2 separate regions of the Homo sapiens genome follow, and region 2 is linked to region 1. The links come from fine-mapping of genetic effects on gene expression. Tissue or cell type: lung. Region 1 holds a variant in brackets; the other region holds the start of a gene. All regions are shown on one strand. Distances are from middle to middle.

The links. PIP is the estimated chance that this variant, and not a neighbour inherited with it, causes the effect.
Region 2: it holds the start of VGLL4, and the variant in region 1 is fine-mapped to the expression of VGLL4 in lung (TOPMed, PIP 0.97).

The regions. Positions count from the first base shown.
Region 1 is chr3:11,499,346-11,510,207 of GRCh38, reverse strand. All of the region lies in intron 20 of ATG7 (autophagy related 7), which reads right to left. Among named protein-coding and RNA genes, the nearest start is that of VGLL4, 140 kb to the left of the region's middle. The variant A/G (reference allele first, on the strand shown) is at 5,963.
Region 2 is chr3:11,638,590-11,649,451 of GRCh38, reverse strand. It overlaps VGLL4 (vestigial like family member 4), which reads left to right and starts at 5,537. Exons shown (of 5, transcript NM_001128219.3): 1 at 5,537-6,015. The coding sequence starts at 5,934. RefSeq lists enhancers at 5,314-5,393, 6,584-6,953, 9,498-10,449.

The DNA.
Region 1 (10,862 bases):
GGCCGGATGAAAGAAAGATGATCCTGAAAGGGGGTAAAGATATATGATTTCAGGCAACTCTGTGTCAGGCACGTACCTTCCTTCTAATTTCTGCAGACACCAGCTGGCTGGGGGAGGGGCAGAAGATGGGCGGGCAGAATAAAGAAAGGATCTCCCTAGTCTTGGAGGAAAACAGGGGAAGCCAGAGGGAGGAAGTTGTTCTGGGTTCAAAGAAATCAACTTAGAAAGCTTCCCTGATAAAAATAGCCATTGGCAAATCCTAGTCTATTTATATCACCCATCCAAGATCACTATCAGGATCCTGGGCTGAATCACAAGACCCAGTAAATAAGTATGGAGCGCTGGCTGCCTGATTTATGGGAAGATATTTAAACACCACTGGAGCAACTGAGTCAGGGAAAATTTGAGTGCTGGCACCAAACGGTACATTTACAAGTGGCTCTCACTTTACAGAAATAGATAGGTTCCTGAAAAGTTGGCTATAAAATGAATTCAATTAACAGAATCATATTTTCCTAGTGAATCACATCTTAAAATTAGAGATAGATTGGGGGAGGGGTGGCCAAAAAAAACCAACCACACCAAACAACTGTGCCTCTGAGACTAAATAAAAATCACTCTTCATTCAGCAAACTCTAAAACGTCACTTACTTAAAAGGCCATTATAAACGCTCATAAAATACAAACAATTTGTCAGCAAACATGTCTATGTCTGTGACATACAAGGAGTTGCACCAGGCTTTGTGGAGGCTTATAAGACACAAGTGGCTGGCCATCAGGAGCTCACAATTTGGCACTTAAAAAAAAAAAAAACCACACTGAAATTCATGTTGCATCAGAAAAAAAACAGCTCCCTGGATGTAGACAAATGTGCATGCATGAGGGCCTGCCTGGCCCTTTAAGTGTTATCTGGGCCGGGAACAGCTCGGCTCCCTCCTGCCGGCAGCAGCCAACCAAGTTGGCCTCTAAGTACTGCTTTTCAAACTCTATGTTTATAAGCTAAAAGCTGTTGGCCATGTGGCGCTGCGTCATAATTGCTTATTTATTTAACTAACTTGGAAAGAAAAAAAACCAACCCATGACCTGGGTGTTTTAATAAAATAAGAAGAGTTAAGGTACTTAAAGCTCTCTGAAAAGTTAAAGGCCTGCACAACCCAAGGGGGTTGTTATTTTAAAGTTTAAAGGGCATTTGCTCAAGGGATCTGTTTGTTTGGAAAAAGTCTGTCTCCTTCTACTTATGCTCTCTTGCACATAGAATATTGGTCATTGGTAACAGGAGCAGAGATCTAATTTGTTATTAATTTGTTATTAGTTTTGTAAGTGCAGATCACGTTGTACCGAGTTTGCTTTAAGCAAGAGACAAACACACTTCAGAAGCCAACACTTGTGAAGTGTTGGCTCTGTCAGCAACTACAGGCACAGAACTGAGGATTATTAGTTCAAAATAGGCTACATAGGGCTGTGCATGGTAGCTGACACCTGTAATCTCAGCGCTTTGGGAAAGCAAGATAGGAGGATCACTTGAGCCCAAGAGTTGGAGACCAGCCTGGGCAAGATGGTGAGACACTGTCTCTATTACAAGAAAATAATAATAATATTAGCAGGCATGGTGGTACACCAGCTACTTCGGAAGCTGAAGCAGGAGGATCACCTGAGCCCAGGAATTTGTGGTAGGCAGTGAGCTATGATCAGGCCACTGCATTCCAGCCTGGGCCACAGAGCAAGACTCTGTCTCTTATTTAAAAAATAAAGCTATATCCCTTAGACCAAGCTTGTCTAACGCATGTGGCCCAGGATGGCTTTGAATGCAGCCCAACACAAATTTGTAAACTTTCTTAAAACAGTATGAATTTTTTCTTTTTTTTTTTTTTTAAGCTCATCAGCTATCGTTAGTGTATTTTATGTGCGGCCCAAGGTAATTATTCTTCCAACGTGGCTCAGGGAAGCCAAAAGATTGGACACCCCCCCACCTTAGACACTGTGTGCCTCACGAACTGGCACCACCATAGGGGCCTGTCCATAGCTAGTAAGAGTGAAATGCTTCCTGTTGACATCTGCTGTAGACCTGAAGGTATACAAAGTGTCGGAGAGTAAACAGCACATTTTTGAAAAAACACTTTTGTTTTAATTCCATAGAGATGAGCCAAGCTGTGGTAGAGGCTGTTGTTTATCCTACTAGCCATTCTTCCCTTCTTCCTTTTACTGATGGAACTCTCCCAGTTTTGTTTTGTTTTTTGTTTTTTTGTTTTTTTTTTAATTACCAGCAAGGTTCAGGGTTGCCCAACTACAGACTGTGTTTCCCAGCATGCCTTACACCCCATGTGACTAATGTTGGCCAATGAGATGGGATGTGAGCAACTGCCAGGTCCAGTCCTTTAAGCAGGAAATGGTTGCCTTCCATTTCCTCTCTTCCTTCCCACATCTAGAGTGTGGACTTAAAATTGCTGGGCTAGCTTTAATAATTCCCAGCAGGGCTTCTTAACCCTGGGGTCCTCAGACCCTCAAGGAGTCCATGAATAGAATTCACTGGTCTTTAAATTTGGAAGGACAAACAAAAACAAAAACAAAAACAAAAAACACCCATAACTTTAGCATTTCCTTCACTTATAATGGAGGGAACAAACCACATTATTAGCAGTGTCCATGACTCTGTCAATAACAGAAATTATAGGTATTTTCATATCACATTATACTTATGGATTGTCTTGAAATATCACAAATACTCATCACTACTTTGGAATTACAAAAATAGCCTTTAGAATTGACACTAGATCATTATTTGATGTATTAATAAAGTACATATTACTATGTCATAAATTTTGGGTTTTTAAAATACTTTGATAATTGTATTTCAACATAATTAATTTCCTTTGTAACTCTGTGTTTTATTTTACACATTTAAACAAAATTTTTATTTATTTATTTTGAGATGGAGTCTCACTCTGTCTCCCAGGCTGGAGTGCAGTGGTGTGATCTTAGCTCACTGAAACTTCCGCCTCCTGGGTTCAAGCGATTCTCCTGCCTCAGCCTCCTGAGTAGCTGGCACTACAGGTGCGTGCCACCTCACCTGGCTAATTTTTGTATTTTTAGTAGAGGCGGGGTTTCACTATGTTGGGCCTGGCTGTTCTCAAACTCCTGATCTCAAGTGATCTGCCTGCCTCAGCCTCCCAAAGTGCTGGGATTACAGGCATGAGCCACTGCGCCCAGCCTGATTTTGCACATTTAAAAGCATTAGTCTGTGAAGTGGTCCCTAGCCTTTGTCACTCTGTAAAGTGATCCATGGCACAAAAAATGCTATGAATCCTTACCTAGGGAATGGCAGAGCAATAATATTTAGGGAACTCAGGCCTGTGGATGACCTTGTACAGCAGAGCACCCATCAAGTTCTAGACCACTCCTCTAGACCAGGGCTGCCCAACTAAACTTTCTGTGATGATGGAAGCATTTTTTTGCTTTGTTTTGTTTTCAGACAGAGTCTCGCTCTGCCACTCGGGCTGGAGTGCAGTGGCACAATCTCAGCTCACCACAACCTCTGCCTCCTGGGTTCAAGTGATTGTCCTGCCTCAGCCTCCTGAGTAGCTGGGATTACAGGCACCTGCCACCACTCCCAGCTAATTTTTGGGTTTTTTTTTTTTTTTTTTTTTTTTTTTTTTGTAGAGATGGGGTTTCACCATGTTGACCAGGCTGGTCTCAAACTCCTGACCTCAAGTGATCTGCCCACCTTGGCCTCCCAAAGTGCTGATACGCATAAGCACATAGGATGACCACACCCAACCAATGATGGAAATGTTTTATCTGTGCTGTCCAATACAGTAACCTCTAGCCAAGAGGCTACTAAGCACTTGAAATGCGGCCAGTGCAACTGAGGCAGTTAACTTTTTATTTTGCTCGAATTACATTTAAATAATCAAATGTGCTTAGTGGCCACCGCACTGGATGGTGCAGCTCTAGACTGTTACATGGAGAAACAAATTTCTACCATGTTTAAACTGTGATATTCTGGGGTCTATTATAGTACCTTAGCCTATACCTTAACTAATACACAAACGTACCTGGACTCAGTAATAATAAATGTACTAGGGAAAGAAGGCACATTTACAGAGAGACCAACTCAAAAAATACACAAACTCACTAACTGAAAGCAAGATTTATACAGAAATGTTCTATTTACAAAGCATTCCCATATATGAATACATGACTTTACGTGATACTCATAATGCCCCTGTGACTGTGACTGCCTTGATCTTGCTCTCAAAGGGGCTTAGTGACTTTACTAATCATGAAGATGGTGGAGCCAGGGGTCAATTCCAGATGTTACCACTGCACTGTGTACCTTTCAGCTCTCTGAATGCCTCCAGACAGAAGTGACAAGACTGCAAAAGACCAATGGCGAGCACTGACTAGCACTTAAGCCACGGAGCCTACTGATACTTTCATCCATCTGCCTCCAGGACACACAAACATCTGCCAAATCCTTTTTTTGGCCCTAGGGTTTAGGGACTTGCAGACACCTGAATTTCCCTAATTCTTGGCAAGGTTCCCATTTCCTGTGGTGTCACTGACTTGCAAGGACCCTTGAGGGCTGAGAGTGGTCTTTAGAAGACTCTTTTGCGGTCGGAGGTAAGGACTTGTAAAGGACGCTGCTTTTCAGCAAATTTTACTGCCAGGGTCATTTCAGTGACCTCTCATTTTCCTCTCTTTGAGATCAATTCAAAGAATAATGTTATGTTAAAACAATAACCAAAAATAGTAATAGGTTATAATTTTATCAGTAACAAAAGGTCCATGTCTTCAATTCTAAACAACACAGACACCAAGGGAGAAAAGCCCATATACTTAAGTGTGACTATATCCTACATCCCAAGCTTCCTTAGAGCCAGGATACACCTGGCTTACCGCTAGTCTTCTTTTCTCTACCTGCGCGAACACTCCTCCATTCCCTAGGCCTATAGAACTCCTACTCGTCCTTTAAAAACCCAGTCTGCCCATTCTCATAGCACTTTTGTTCTTTTTAAAACGTTTTCACTTGAGTAAAATTATGTATGAACATAGTTTAAAGAGCCAAATAATTCCAAGGCTTGTTATGAAAATTAACAGGCTCCCAGCTTCCATACTATACTCCGTAGAGACTTACCTGATACTTTTAGTTACCTCTGTATGTTAAAATAACGTGCTCATATTGTCACCTCTTGACTTCTCGATCTTTTCAGGTTTAGGCATTATATATATTTCCCATTTTGCTCGGTAAATGAGGATTTGGCTCTTTCACTGCTGTGAGCCCCCTTACCCCTGTCATGGCAAACTCTTGCCTCCCTATCTTTCCACCATTTCAACATAATTATACTATAATTTTGGTTAGATCTACATCCAGTGTTGACATTATTTTGACTGTTTAATTGCTGTATCTAGGTAAGCCATGTAATATACTAGGATTACTTATTCTTTCTTGTACAACATTGTTTTCCCTGGAATTAACAACTGTCTTTTCTGTTGTTCTACTTTGTCTCTATGTACTTATCAATAATTTAATCGCAAACTCTCTGCCAACTGTCTAAACCTCCTAAATATATGTTCAGACACATTAGGTATTCAAGCCATTTCATCTTAACACAATCTGTCCTAGAGCCCTCTGGCCTGGATCCAGTCTGTTCTAGTCATCCTCAGTGCTTCAGGCCCAGCTGCCACCCCAGGCTTCCCTTCGCTACTGTTTTGAGGATGCCTTTCAATCTCTCCTTTGTGGGATCTCCCATTCCCTATATTCCATCTCTTTCCCTTTCTTGGTTACTCTTACTTTTCTGGAGTTCATCCTCCAATGGTTTGCATAGGGTGACTAGGAGACAAATGTTTTGTTTATCTGATCTTGTGTATCTGAAAGTATCTATTCTATGTTCATATTCAATGAGCGGTTTGGCTTGATACAGACTTGTAGATTAGATATAATTTCCCTTTATTGTTTGAAAGC[A/G]TTGTTGCATTGATTTCCAGTTTCCAGTGTAGTTATTCAGAAGTCCAAAAACAACTCTGATTTTTTATTCTTTGTATATCAACTTTTTTCCCCCTCTCGACTGTCTTTTGTTCCCACTGTTTTGAAATTCACTATGATGAACCTTAGTGTTGGTCTAGTCTCATCTACTGTTCTGGGCAGTTGGTAGACTCTCTCAATGGAGACATTTGTTTCTCTCAATTGTGGGTAACTGCCTTTAATTTCTTCCTTATTTTTTCTGGCCTGTTTTCTATGTTTTCCTTTCCGCAAACTCTATTATTTGAATATTGCTTCTAGCCTGATCCATCTTTTCATCTTTTCTCCCTTATTTTCCATTTCTTTGTCTTTTTGCTTAGTTTCTGGAAGATAGTCTAAATTTCACTGTCTAATCCTTCTACTGAATTTTAAACTTATATATTTAATTTCTAAGAGTACTTTTAATCATTTGATTTTTTTTTTTTTTTTTTTTTTTGAGACAGAGTCTCGGTCTGTTGCCCAGGCTGGAGTGCAATGGCGTGATCTTGGCTCACTGCAACCTCCGCCTCCTGGGTTCCGGCGATTCTCCTGCCTCAGCCTCCTGAGTAGCTGGGATTACAGGCACGCGCCACCATGCCCAGCTAATTTTTGTATTTTAGTAGAGATGGGGTTTCATCATGTTGGTCAGGCTGGTCTTGACCTCCTGACTTCGTGATCTGCCCACCTCAGCCTCCCAAAGTGCTGGGATTACAGGCGTGAGCCACTGCGCCCGGCCTGAATATCCTTTTTTTTGTTAATAGCATTTTTTGTTTCATGAATGTAGTACCTCTTTCACTGAGGGATAAGATATATGTACATATTATATGTTCTTACTGAGAACATAAATGATAGTAGAATTTTTTGGGACATGTAACATTTTTATCTCCTTACATTGTCTTTTTTCCTTCAAATTTAGTCTAGTCTTTTTTGAGTTAGACATCTGGGAATACTTGGTTTCTGCTCCTACTTAAGGAGAAGGTACTCAGAAGCTGTCTGAAGTCCACTATGGCCTTCAGTATAGGGTCATCTGGCCGACTGTCATTCAAAGAGCCCCCGACAACTGCTCTTTTGAGCTGGTCAGAGGCTCTGGAGAAGGACTGCCCACTCTCCTGCCTGGAAGGTATTTGAGCCTGACCACCTGTGTTGTTGGATCCTAGTGTGGGGAGAAGCTTGGATACCCCTGTATCTGGTATGTAAACATTCATTTAATCCCATATTTTCAGTGGTATACACGCTACTTTCAACTCTGGCTGGTGTATCCTAATCCAAAAGCCTGTTTTACCCTTAACAGAAAGCAAACTTTCAGTTTCCAAAATGGAATAAGAGAGGGCAGTTGTCTGTCCTATTGCACAAAAGCTAAGGTGGGGGCCTGGGGATCTAATTGCTTCTTAGGAAGTTCAACCAACTCTCCTATTTAAGCCCCATACTTCACACTTTCAGATGCATCTATAGTCCCAAATCCAAGTCTTCAGGAGGCTCTATGGGAAATACTGGCTTTCTCTACTGGTTGGCTTAGAATTTAACATTCTTGTGAATAATGCCACAATTCACAATAGCAAAGACTTGGAACCAACCCAAATGTCCAACAATGATAGACTGGATTAAGAAAATGTGGCACATATACACCATGGAATACTATGCAGCCATAAAAAATGATGAGTTCACGTCCTTTGTAGGGACATGGATGAAATTGGAAACCATCATTCTCAGTAAACTATCGCAAGAACAAAAAACCAAACACCGCATATTCTCACTCATAGGTGGGAATTGAACAATGAGATCACATGGACACAGGAAGGGGAACATCACACTCTGGGGACTGTTGTGGGGTGGGGGGAGGGGGGAGGGATAGCATTGGGAGATATACCTAATGCTAGATGACGAGTTAGTGGGTGCAGCACACCAGCATGGCACATGTATACGTATGTAACTAACCTGCACAATGTGCACGTGTACCCTAAAACTTAAAGTATAATAATAATAAAAAATAAATTAAAATTAAAAAAAAAAAGAATTTAACGTTCTTGTCCATCTTTTCAGGATCCAAAATTTTTGTTGCTCTTGTTTGTACTTTTATTCTCTCATTATCCTTCAGAGTTTTGCATATATCACATAAATGACATATGTTACTGTTATTTTACATGACAGCAAACATATATATAAACATATGTGTGTATGTGTGTATATATGTTTACTACCATTTTAGGAAGCTTCAAGAGGGATCAAAAGTAAACCCAGGATCACGCCTGTAATCCCAGCACTTTGGGAGGCCGAGGCAGGGGATCAACTGAGGTCAGGAGTTCTAGACCAGCCTGGCCAACATGGTGAAACCCCGTCTCTGCTAAAAATGCAAAAATTAGCCGGATGTGGTGGCGCACACCTGTAATCCCAGCTACTCAGGAGGCTGAGGCAGGAGAATCACTTGAACCCGGGAGGCGAAGGCTGCAGTGAGCCACAATCGCACCACTGCACTCCAGCCTGGGCAACAGAGGGAGACTCTGTCTAAAAAATAAAAAGTATATTGCAGACATCATGATACTTAACCTCAGAATATATCAGCATATATTCCCTGAGAATAAAGGGAATTTCTTATACAACCATAATACATAATTTACTATGTAACCATTTTCCTATACAACCATAATAACATTATCACACCTATCTATTAATATCATTATCTATTAATAATATGGAGTCCGTACTTAAATTTCCTCAACTGTTTCAAAAATGAACTTTACTTTCTAAATGTAACACTGTAGATTTTTCTGTACCACTCAAAAATAACACTGAAATAGAAACTTCTCAGTCCTTCTGACAAATAATAACAGCTAGTATCTACTAACTGCTTTCTATATATTAGGCACTTTTCTCAGGTTTTCTGATATCCCTGGGTTAATTTTCTTGTTCCTCTTATAACTCCCTAAGCATGATACAAAATTTCTATGATTTTCTTTTCTTTTCAGACAGGGTCTTACTCTGTTGCCCAGGCTGAGTGCAGTAGCACAATCATGGCTCACTGCAGCCTCAACTTCCCAGGATCAAGTGATCCTCCCACCTCAGCATCCCAGGTAGCTGGGACTACAGGTGCGTATCACCATACCTGGCCAATTTTTTATTTTTAGTAGAGACAGCATTTTGCTATGTTGCCCAGGTTGGTCTTGAACTCCTGGCCTCAAGTGATCCTCGCACCTTGGCTTCCCAAAGTGCTGAAATTACCAGGGTGAGCTACCATGCCCGGCCCTATTATTTTCATTCATTTCTGTTATTTATACAAAAACTTAGGTTGGGCGGTGCAGTGGCTCACGCCTGTAATCCCAGCACTTTGGGAGGCCAAGATGGGCAGATCACAAGGTCAGGAGATCGAGAACATCTTGGCCAACATGGTGAAACCCCGTCTCTAGTAAAAATACAAAAATTAGCTGGGTGTGGTGGCGCACGCCTGTAGTCCCAGCTACTCTGGAGGCTGAGGCAGGAGAATTGCTTGAACCTGGGAGGTGGAGGTTGCAGTGAGACGTCCGGCCTGGGTAACAAGAGCAAAACTCCGTCTCAGACAAACAAACAAAAAAACCTTAAGTTGAAGAATTTTCCTAAGCACTGTATTATCTATACTCAAAAATTTTACGTGTAGAACTTTCACATCATTTTCTACATGGCCTAGAATTTTGGTTTTGATTTTCTTGTTGACCTAAGGGGAGTTTTAAAATTTCCCAATGGTGGAGTTTTATTTTCTAGTTTTTAGTCTTTTAATTTGTATTTTTTAGTTGTATTGCATAGTGATCAGATATGTTATTGTTACTTCTATTTTTTTGGCATTTACTGTGGTTTTCTTGGTGTCCTACTCGATATGATCAATTTTTGTGGCAACTAAGAAGGTTCATCAATTAATACATTAATATCATATTAACTAAACAGCAGTTTTATGTCTCCACCTCCTTACTCCAACCAAATTCTACATGTTAGAATTCAAATTTTTAATATTTTGGCATGGGGGTTTGAGACATTACATCCTCACCACTGCCATACAACTGTGTTCATATTGTTCTTTATGTTGCGCGTTGCTGCTATTGAATTAAAGAGCATTAGCCCTGGAAGGGAATTAAAAGGTCATCTAAGCCAACCTCCACTCAGTACAGATATATCCTTTACAGCATCCCCAGAAGATGTTAAAATGGATTTTATTTGAATTATTGCTGGACCAGGGAACTCAGAACACTCCTGAACTTGTGGCGTTTGTGGCCCATCAGGAAATAAGGATTAAGATGCTCATAAAATATTTGTTGGCCACCTACTATGAGGACTGCATTGCCCAATGCATCTTGGGGGATGCACAAGACTGGTATGATACTACACCTGTGTAACAGCTAGCACTGTGGCTCCCAAACTGCGTGTGGAGGTGCCCTGGGCACTGCAGTGAATCTGCACCATGGGATATTTTAGATTTTTTGTTTCTTTTTTTTTTTTTTTTGAGATGGAGTTTCGCTCTTGTTGTCCAGTCTGGAGTGCAATGGCATGATCTTGGCTCACTGCAACCTCTGCCTTCCCGGTTCAAGCGATTCTCCTGCCTCAGCCTCCCGAGTAGGTGGGACTACAGGTGTGCACCACCACACCTGTCTAATTTTTTGTATTTTTAGTAGAAACAGGGTTTCACCACATTAGCCAGGCTGGTCTCGAACTCCTGACCTCAGGTGATCCGCCCTCCTCGGCCTCCCAAAGTGCTGGGATTGCAGGCGTGAGCCACTGCGCCTGGCCGTATTTTAGATTTTCAAGGAAAGCAACATGATACTAACATCTGTCAGGCACTGCACAAACCACTAGATCAAGGTGGGTCACAGCTTCAACATTAGTTCAATCTGCATTCCTTCTGATG
Region 2 (10,862 bases), 140 kb before region 1:
TTTGTAGGCTAGTTAGAAATTCAGGAAAATGGAAAAAATGCCCACCATTCAAAGATGGGCACTATTAACATTTTGGAATACTTTCCAGTCTTTTTAATGTATACTTTTTCCTATATATATATGTATGTTTTCATAAATACATTAGCACAGTTGGTGAATAATGTGTGTTTTAGTTTTATATCCGATTTTTATTGTTTTCAGTTAACAAATGTAGTACTGTCACACAGTATATAGCATAGCATTTCCTCATGTCATTATAGATTATTGAAGGTGTTGTAATGGCTGCGTAATAGTCTGTCATCGATAAGCCACGGTTTTAATGCATCCTTTTATTTGGACTTTAGGTTTTCAGGTTTTCATTTTACACATAGCTGTATGATAAGCATCTTTATGAAACTCTTCAAATCTTATTTTCTTAAGACAGAAGTCTAGAAGTAGAGTCCAAGGCAAGGACAAAGGCATGGACATTTTTCATAAAACAGTCTAGTGTGTGCCAACCTGCTTTATACACAGGCGTTATCTGTTTATACTGCATTAGCAGTGAGCAAAGATTCCAATGGCATCCTGTTTCACCAGCAAGAAATAAGATTGAAAAAGTCTTTTTGTTAAATTGGTAGCTGGAAAATCACTTAAAATTTATATTTCTTTGATTATTAGTAAGGTTGAATAGTTTTTCAAAAATGTGTTGGCCATTTGTTTCTCATGCTCTTAAAAAATGTTATTCAGATCAAGTGGTTTTTCAATTTTTTCCTTTGTTCTTTCTATTTTTAAATGTTCTTTGAATACCAAGAACATTTATCCTTCACTGTAATATATGACACAAATATATTCTTCAGTTTTGTATTTTGCCTTTACTTGGTTTTGGTGTTTTTAGATGTATAAAAGCATAAAATCTGTATTCTCAATCAAATTCTACATCTTCCTTGGTGGCTTCTGTCTTTGATTAAAAATTTTATTTCTGGCTTAGCAAATGTTTTCCTATTCCACATCAGATAGTCTGAACATATCCTTATAGTTTTGTAAGTTTTTGCAGCAAAAACCTTACTTTAAAAGCATCTAAATAATCTTTAAAACATTTGGGATTTATTTTGATGTACAGTATAAGGCAAAGTGCTATCTGGATTCTTTTCTCAGTAATGTTTGTTTTGTAATCCACTTCTTCCCCATTGGCCTGGATTTCTGATTCCTATATCCACAGTATCTGTCTGGTCCTACCTAGTCTCTACCCAGTAACACTCCAAAATATATTCTTTGCTTTATGTTTTAAATATTTGATAGATCAAACTTATTCATTCGTAGAAAAAGAACTAGCTTTTCCCATCTCATTTGTGTGTGTGGATAAAATTTAGACCCATCTTTCCAATTCCCTACAAAACTATCCTGTTGCTACTTTAATTATGAATATATTATCCTATGAATGAATCTGAGAAGGATTGATATTTTCTAGTATTTTTTTTTTTTTATGGATGAGCTGATTGTACCCTGAAGTACAATCAGAATCTACATGGTGTTTCTTAAAGGCAAGGACCTGTGGTCTCCAAGAGATGTTGACAGCCACCTAATGACATCGAGTAAGATAATCCAGAGTGTGCTGGAAGTAGGGATGGGGAAATGAAGAATCTGCCGTTTAGATGTTTACTGATTTTATTCAGCTGGTATTTATTGATGGCCTACCATGCGCCAGGCTTCTGCCAGACTTCTGCCAGACTGACCTCGAAAAGGTGAGGAAGGCATAGTCCTTGCTCCGAAGATCTAGGCTAGGAAAGAAGCACATATAAGGTATGGGTTGAGCGTCCTAATCCAAAAATCTGAAATGAAAAATGCTCCAAAATCTGAACAGTGTTGAGTGCTGACACAACATTCAGGTGAAAATGCTCATATTGGAGCATTTCAGATTTCAGACTTTAAAATTAGAGATGCTCAACTGGTAAGTATAATGCAACTATTCCAAAATCCAAGAAGGTCCGAAATCCAAAACACTTCTGGTCCAAGTATTTTGGATAAGGACTACTTACCCTGTAAAAGGATAGCTTGGCGTAGGGTGTGAGGAGATGGTAGGATGGGATCGTAGGGAGATTTCACAGGACAAGAGGGGCTTTCTGACAAGTCTCAAGGAAGAGTGGATGTTTGCTGAGTAGACAGGTTGGGAAAGAAGAGACGTCCTGCACACCGAGAAGCATACTGATGTGCTTTGTGGAATAACTCACTGCAGGTCATCCAGTGTGCTTGAAACTAAGGTGAAAGTTGTCAGGAGCTGGGATGGAAAGGCCTAGAGCCGGTCCAGGAGGCGCTCCCAGCCTGCAGAGGCGGGCTGTTGTAGCTGGCCCCTCTGGAGCACAAGCTTCTCTGTGAAACCAGGTTTGTTTCATTTTTCCCCAAGACTTTGTTGCAGACTGATAGTTTATAAAATGTAATGCAGCCCTATAACTAGAAATACGAAAACTACAGCCCTCAAATTTCTTTAATATTAAGATTTGAGAGACATAAAATTAGTCTATCGAATTGCTATAAAAGTTTTAAATGTTCATTCTCCGTTTCTGTATCTAGCTTTTGGGGACTAGGAACACCTGGTGCTCGAACCCCTCTGGATCACACTTGGGTAGCACCGTGCTAGCCTCCCGGATCAGCGGGAAAGACGTGGTGGCTGTGGCTGGGAATGTTACAATAGTCAAGGTAGACCTGTGAGACGGTGTCCACGAAAATGGTTGCCACCCGGAGGCTGAGAACTGCTGTTCTAAGTGATGCTGAGTCCCTTAAGGGACGTTACCAAATATTTTATTCATTTTCTACAATGGTATTGTTTGAATCATTTGCTTAAATTACTATTAAAAAAATTCTTCATGTCAAAATAAGTGAATAAAATGAAATATCTTAAGGCAGGGTTTTTTTTTTTTTCCTCCCTAGATGAAAGCAATGGTTCTCAACCTTGACTGCATATTGGAATCACCTGGGACTTTAGAAGCTACTGCTGCTGGTTCCCACCTCAGATGAGTTGGGGATGCAACCTCAGCAGCAAGATTTTTAAAAGCTCCCCCCTGGTTCTAATGTGCAGCCACCTCTCTTCCATGTGGGACAATGATGGATAAAGTTTTCTGATTGAGAATTTATGTAAAAACGTAGCACAGTAAGAGTACTCCAAAACTATCAGTTAAATTTAAATCTGATACCTGATATTGTTTGTTTTCAGTGCAATGATCTCATGTATACTGGATGTTACGAGTTTTGAGTTTTCTTCAACCCTCCCCACCAAATACCATTAAGTATTTTAATTACAATTGATAGGATACATATCTTTCACTATAGCTTATTACATGTAATATAGTGTCAATAAATATTCTTATAAATGAAAGCTTGTGAAATCTTGATTCCCCTATTACTTACTTCCCCTGATGTCACCCCAGTGATTACTGTTGCAGCAATGACGGCAACAGTATTTAGTATTTAGATGTCATATAGTTTTTTTGTTTTGTTTTGTTTTTTGAGACGGAGTCTTGTTCTGTCACCCAGGCTGGAGTGCAGTGGCACAATCTTGGCTCACTGCAGCCTCTGCCTCCCGTGTTCAAACAATTCTCCTGCCTCAGCCTCCCTAGTAGCTGGGATTACAGACACATGCCACTATGCCCGGCTAATTTTTGTATTTTTAGTAGAGACAGGGTTTCACCATGTTGGCCAGACTGTTCTCAAACTCCTGACCTCAAGTGATCCGCCCGTCTCAGTCTCCCAGAGTGCTGGGATTACACGCGTGAGCCACCGCATCCGGACTCCCAAGTAAGATTTCATTAGAACACCTTGCCATGAGTGTGCCTAATAAACCCAATGCAACTATTGCTGGATTTTTTTTTTTTTTTGAGACGGAGTCTCGCTCTGTCGCCCAGGCCGGACTGCGGACTGCAGACTGCAGTGGCGCAATCTTGGCTCACTGCAAGCTCCGCTTCCCGGGTTCACGCCATTCTCCTGCCTCAGCCTCCCGAGTAGCTGGGACTACAGGCGCCCGCCACCGCGCCCGGCTAATTTTCTGTATTTTTAGTAGAGACGGGGTTTCACCGTGTTAGCCAGGATGGTCTCGATCTCCTGACCTCATGATCCACCCGCCTCGGCCTCCCAAAGTGCTGGGATTACAGGCGTGAGCCACCGCGCCTGGCCTATTGCTGGATTTTTAACATACAACTCCTTCAAATTATTTATTCAAATATTATTTTGGAATATTAAAAATATATTTTTAGAATAGTAATTCAAATGTTTAGTTTTTGTTTTTTTTTTTTCTATTTTGTTAACACGTTCTTGATGTGCTGAAAACTGAACATTCAGTGGTTCACTCGTTCAGTAAACAGTTTTTGGGCACCTGAACTTGGTTGTGCTAGGCACTGGGTAATCAAAGTTTAAGCCCCAAGTTCTTCCAATAGCAAATAGTACAGCTGCATGCCACTAGCTTCTTACACACAGGTGGGTGACATACATGCCAAATGAAAATAATTTTACCCTTTCCCTCTATAATTTCAAGTACACTTTTAATTTTTGATATTATAGCCCTATTTGCTTAAACACTCTTCCATCTCTTCTCCTCTCCTTGTCTCCTTTTTTTCTTTTCTTTTTTTTTTTTTTTTTTGAGACAAAGTCTCACTCTGTTGCCCAGGCTGGAGTGCAGTGTCACGATCTTGGCTCACTGCATCCTCCTCCTCTCAGGTTCAAGCAATTCTCCCACCTCAGCCTCCTGAGTAGCTGGGACTACAGGCGTGCGCTACCACACCAGGCTAATTTATGTATTTTTAGTAGAGATGGGGTTTCACCATGCTGGCCAGGCTGGTCTTGAACTCTTGACCTCAAGTGATCCGCCTGCTTCGACTAGGATTACAGGTGTGAGCCACTACACCCGGCCCCCTCGTTTTTTTAAATAAAATTATAACATTAGGTGGGAAAAAACACTTTAAAAGTAGTTCTGTCAACTATTTTGGGGGCTGTGGGCCAGTCATTTAATCCATCTGAACCTGTTTCCTCTGCTGTGAAAGGGTGATACCCTCCTTGCCCTGTCCATCTCAGTTGTTATGGGGATTATGGAAGAAGCTATATGTAACATTAACATCAGAAATTTAAATATCCAGTTAAAGTGTAAATGGATATTATAAAACAATCTTTAAAAGAAACAAAGACACTATATATATATATATGGCTTATGCATCACTAGCACTTTGGGTTTCCGAAACCCCAACATGAAGTTTCACGAAAGTTGCATTCCATGGGAGTTTGCTTCCATGATGGATTTTTTACTTTGTACTTAGCTCCTGAAAAAGAAACTTCCTGGGTTTTCTTTTTTCCTCCTACGGTTTTGCAGCGGCTTGGCTGCTTCCTGTCAAGAGCCACTCTGCCAAGGCCCCGTCTCTAGAGTCTCTCCCCCTCCCCTTTCTCTTTCTTTCCAACACTTGCTACATTGAGAGGCTGATCCTGTGCAGAAGCCCTCCCTGCCTCGGCAGCGCGGCGCAGTGAGCATGCTCGGCCTCCTGCGGGAAGAGGAAGCGGCGGCATAGGAGTCATGCCAAGCATAGCCCTCATGTCAGCGCTGCCGGCTTGCAGCGGGCTGTGAGAGGGGCCGGCGCCGCTTTGTCCTAGGAAACGGGCTGCGCGTTTCTCTTTTTCACTCTTTTCCATTTCCAGGAAGGACTTGTAAGGACTTCTGAAACGCTGTTTTCATACTCGATCGGGGATACAGTACATACACCGTCTACCAGTAAGCCCTTGAAGGGTTTCGTGTGAGCTCGATTTTTTTGTGCCTGATTTTTTTTTTTTTAACTTTTGCATACTTTGTTTTGATAGTCTGAGGCTGGGCCTCTGCCTTTGTGAAGTTGAAGAGCCAGGAGCTACTCAGCAACAATTGATTTTTGAAACTTAACTCTTTTGGGGCAAAAGCAAAGAGCTGGTTTTCTTTGCTAGCCCAATAAATGCTATTTATGAAGATGGACCTGTTGAACTATCAGTACTTGGACAAGATGAACAACAATATCGGCATTCTGTGCTACGAAGGTAGATGTCCCGTTGTAGAATTACTGCCCGTTGCTCGTCCCGGCCACTCCTCCTCAGTGTGCTGGGTGCCTGCCTTCTAAGCGCCCGCTGTCCTCCTCCGGGGTGTAGGGCACTTGAAAGGCCGGCGTTTCTTAGGTTCGGTTCGGCACCGAGTGTGTTCGGATCTCAGGCTGCGGGGGGCGGTGGAGGGGGCTGGACGGGGAGGCAGTGAAGTAGAAACCCTTCAAAGTTTGCTCGTTGCTTGCAACGTACTCGCGCCTCACATTTTTAACTCTTTAAAATGTATGTATTTTTGATTTCCGTTAATATTGTCTTTAGGGGAAGGACTTGTAGGACGCCGGTAAAAGTTGAGCCTCTTTGGGGGAGGGGCTGGTAAGGATTGCACCGTCTACTGTACCCTGCTGTGGGCCACGGCGCCCTGCAGCTCACGGAGGGGGAGCCAAAGTTACAGCGAGTTTTTGTGCTCGCGAGTGAGCGTCCCAAACAGCGGAGAATGTCCCTCTCCCGCGTGGGGCCGGAAGGGCACCGTGTCAGCGAGCACAGGCGGGCTCTTTGTCTCGCTGGCGCTTCCTGTGCAGCCCGGGGAGCGCTGACACTGGGGGGTGTTCCTCGCGCTCCGCTCCCTGTGGGAGCGATTACACAACACCCCGACCCCCAGCCTGCCCTGAAAAAGAGAGAGCCGCGCCGAACTGTTATTTATTACCTCCTACTGCCCGCGAGGTGCTTCCCCCACTGTCTTGTATTTCCAACTGTCTCTGGTAGCAGTCAGAGAAAAATCTATTTCTTAAGCCCTCGGACATCCTCTACGTGCGATTTGAAAAAGTGGCAATGGCCCTGGGTCTGCCGCCGAGGGCATCTCCGGGGGAGTTCGGCCTGGCAGGAAGAGTGTTTTCTGTTGTAACCACACACACATCCGGGACTCTTCTCTTTCTCATTCAGCAGGAGCAGTTTCCATTTTTTCTCCAATAATACACGGGACATTTCTCTTGAAAAAGAAAACAGTTACAAAAACTTGGGAGGGTGATTCACTTGTATTTTTTTAATCTAAAAACTTCAGGCCTGTTTCCTAATCAGTTGAAAACTCACCCTTTCAAGAGTATTTTTCCCCTTCAAGGAAAAAAAACAACAACAACCCTCATTCACGTTGTTTTTTAAAACTCTATGGATGAGGATCTCATATTTAACGTTTTTTAAAAAGAGTATTTGTTTTTCTTTACTCCTACTAGTTCCTGCTATGAGAATTTTCGTGAATTTCTTTCTTTGCATCTGATGTGTTAAGTAACATCTTGCTTCTGAACTCACTTAAAAAAGGCAGCCGACTTTAGAAAGCCGTAAGCAGCCATTGCTGGGCTTGTTTCCCGTGACATTCACACATTGTAGTCAGGGTTTTGTTTTTCTTGTTTTTTTTTTTTTTAACCATCCCCGCTTCCCCCAACAAGAAAGAAAAACTTCTGAGGCAATTTCTGTTGTATTGTCTTTGCCAACAAGTAATACGATATTTTAAAAACAAAACATAATGGCCTAAGAGAGAAATATAAGATTGTTAGGAAATTGATACCAGATTAGTTTTTCCTGTCTCCGATTGGTGAGGACCAACTTACGGACAGCGAGCCCAGGTCGAGTTGTTGTGTAGCATGCAACACCCAGGAAACTAGAGTGCTCTGCTCTGCTCTTCTCTCTCGGTATTTGGGAGGAAGAAACTTTGATTTTGAAGATTGAGTAGCTATATGGGATAATGGGCTGAAGTCTGTTTGGTTTAAACATCTGCTCCTATTTTCCTTATTATGAGAGTTAACATTATTTTAACACCAGAATAAATACAGAGGAAATGAAGGAAAGCACAGCAAAATTTGAGTGGTGTTTATAGTGAATTGTTGATGTCCTAGTGGTTTTCTCAGTGTAAACACTGCACACATCTGGTCTGAACTCCAGAGGGTGTTTTGAAGATGGGCATAAATCACACACGGGATTTTTTTGTAGGAAAAGTTGGAAAGGTTATGGTTCTTTAAAATCCAACACTTGGACTTGGAGAATATTCGTTTTAAACATATCAGCTCCCCAGCATTCCAGGGAAGTTGTTTGGAAAATGGAATGTACTGTTGGTAGGCAACATTTGATTTCATTTAGGGCACAGTCAAGTTTCATGCCCCTTAAGAATAAGGGACAAATTAATTTTATGACATTTTAGTTTTAAAAATTAAGATGCGGATGGTTAATTATTCTTACCAGCTAAATTATACCATATTCCTTAGTTGTATGAGACATAGCTCTACTCTAAAATAAACCATGTGTCTGGTCTTTTTTTTTTTTTTTTTTTTGGTGATGAAGTCTCGCTCTTGTCCCCCAGGCTGGAGTGCAATGGCGCGATCTTGGCTCACTGCAACCTCTGCCTCCCGGGTTCAAGCCATTCTCCTGCCACAGCCTCCTGAGTAGCTGGGATTACAGGTGCCTGCCACCATGCCCGGCCCATTTTTGTATTTTTAATAGAGATGGGTTTCACCATGTTGGGCAGGCTGGTTTCAAACTCCTGACCTCAGGTGATCCACCCACCTCAGCCTCCCAAAGTGCTGGGATTACAGGCATGAGCCACCGCACTCAGCCTGTACTGTCTTTCTTAAACCTCTCTTGTGACTTAATACGCAAATCGATCTTTTTAGCCGTTTACCTTGTAGCATACAAGGTCTTCCTTCCTGACTGACTCCATATTGCTTAGATGTGGACTCCCTCCTTGGTAACTGCTTCCTGGCTCCTGCCCTCCACCATAGTTGTCTGCAAGAATAACTGAAAAGAATAAAGGGAAAAAGTTAACCACAATTAGCAGGTTTGGGGTGGGAGAAGGAGACGTTAGGGAGAGGGCCGGAAGAATCGAAGTCTGGCTGACTTCTGGAAGCTAACTAATTCCCTTCACTAATGATGAGCGGATTAGTAGAACTGGGCTTGTGCTATGTGTTCAGAACCTCATGGCTTATTACTACCGTACTCAGCAATTAACCACTGCGTCCATCACCCCACTGAATGCTCAGATGATACCCACTTGAAGCCCAGTTTTGCCTCTGTCTCCATGCAAAGGTCATAGGCCAACCCCAGCCCTCATTTTTTCCCTCCTCTGAACACCTGAGAATACCTTACTAGACTGGCGAAAGCCTCGTGAAGGCAGAGCATTCTGTCTTGGTGACCGCTGCATCCCTGAATCCTAGCACAGGGTCTGAGTGGGCTTTCAGGAAGTGGTTTAGAATGAAGGCTGACTCAAAAAAAAATCAGTGCAAGCTCTCAATGGCAGCTGTAGTTGCTCCTGTATAATTTAATACTTGATTATATACTGCCTTGTATTCTCTATCTAATTATTGCAGAGCTATCCAGGGCCTCAGACATCATCTAATACCTTTGCCTTGTTTTCACCAAGGAAAGTGAGGCTCAGAGAGGGAAACTCTGTTTTTCAGAGAGTTGATTTAGTTTATTTAGAAAGTTTGTGGCAGGATTGAATTGAGTTTTGACTCTTCTATGAATCTTCTATGCCGTGCTGCCTCTCCAGAATTATTTCATGTCTTTTTTTTTTCTTTTGAGACGGAGTCTTGCTCTGTCGCCCAGACTAGAGTGCAGTGGCGCCATCTCCACTCACTGCAACCTCTGCCTCCCGGGTTCAAGTGATTTTCCTGCCTCAGCCTCACTAGTAGCTGGGATTACAGTAGGTGCCCTGCACCATGACCAGCTAATTTTTGTATTTTTGGTAGAGGTAGGGTTTCACCATGTTGGCCAGGCTGGTCTCAAACTCCTGATCTCAGGTAATCCGCCCGCCTTGGCCTTCCAAAGTGCTGGGATTACAGGTGTGAGCCACCGCGCCGGGCTTATTTCATGTCTTATCTCCTCATTAGCTCCGTGATGTTAGGGTCATGCCCCGTCCTGGGTGCCCTCACGGCCTAGCACGGGGATAACACCCTGGATTACAGCACACAGTGGAGCCTCTCCCACTTCTCCTTGCTCTGAAGCCAGTTGCTGGTCCAAATTCCGAGGCTGTTGTGATGTTGGGGAAAGGGTAGGTGAGACACCTCTGAGTGACCGGCCTCGCTGGAAGGTGCTCTTCGTGCTGCTCTGGCACTGGGCTTGCTTTCCTTTTGTCTGCCTGTGCAGAGGAGGAGGCCTGCGTGGATGCCAGCTCCAGAGCCAGTCCCCAGGGAGCAGGGACAGGGACAGGTTAGACCACGGGCTTTCCTCAAGATCGCTGTCGCTGCACTGACATCATCCCTGGGGCTGAGACCTGGGTCTGAGCCCTGGCTGGCTGGGGCTTTACACTGCTGGTAGCGATACTTTAATTATGGGTTAAGAGCCATTAGTGTGTAATTTGGTGGAAGAATTCTCTCCTTTTAATTTAATAGCGTGATTTATATTGGGAGAAAGTAGGAATACATTGCATAGTGTGATCCTCTCAAAGCTTAAGAGCGAATTATTCCGACTTCAAGCTTTAGAACGGTTCATTGTTTTAGGCACAGTTATCCCTTGTTTCATCACGGGCAACTTTTAAATTAATTTTCTGGAATGGAAGGGAAGACGCACACTGGAGAGTTGCTGAGTTCAGTGAGACCCTGTGATCTTTTGTTTTCCACCAGTCTAACCACCAGCGGTTGAGTGGAGTCCTGGCTTCATTGTTCTTTGTCTAATGAGCTCAGAACCTTCAGGAAACTTAGGAGGCTTGGGTAGGTGAAAAGGCCACAGCGCAGGGCCATTTCGTACCCTCTCCTGGTCCCCAGCCCTGCATATCAAGTGACGAGCTCTTGATCTGGGATGTATTCCGAGGTAGAACATCTGTAACTGTTTTGCTGTGGAAAGTCATTTTACTTTAGCTTTTTACT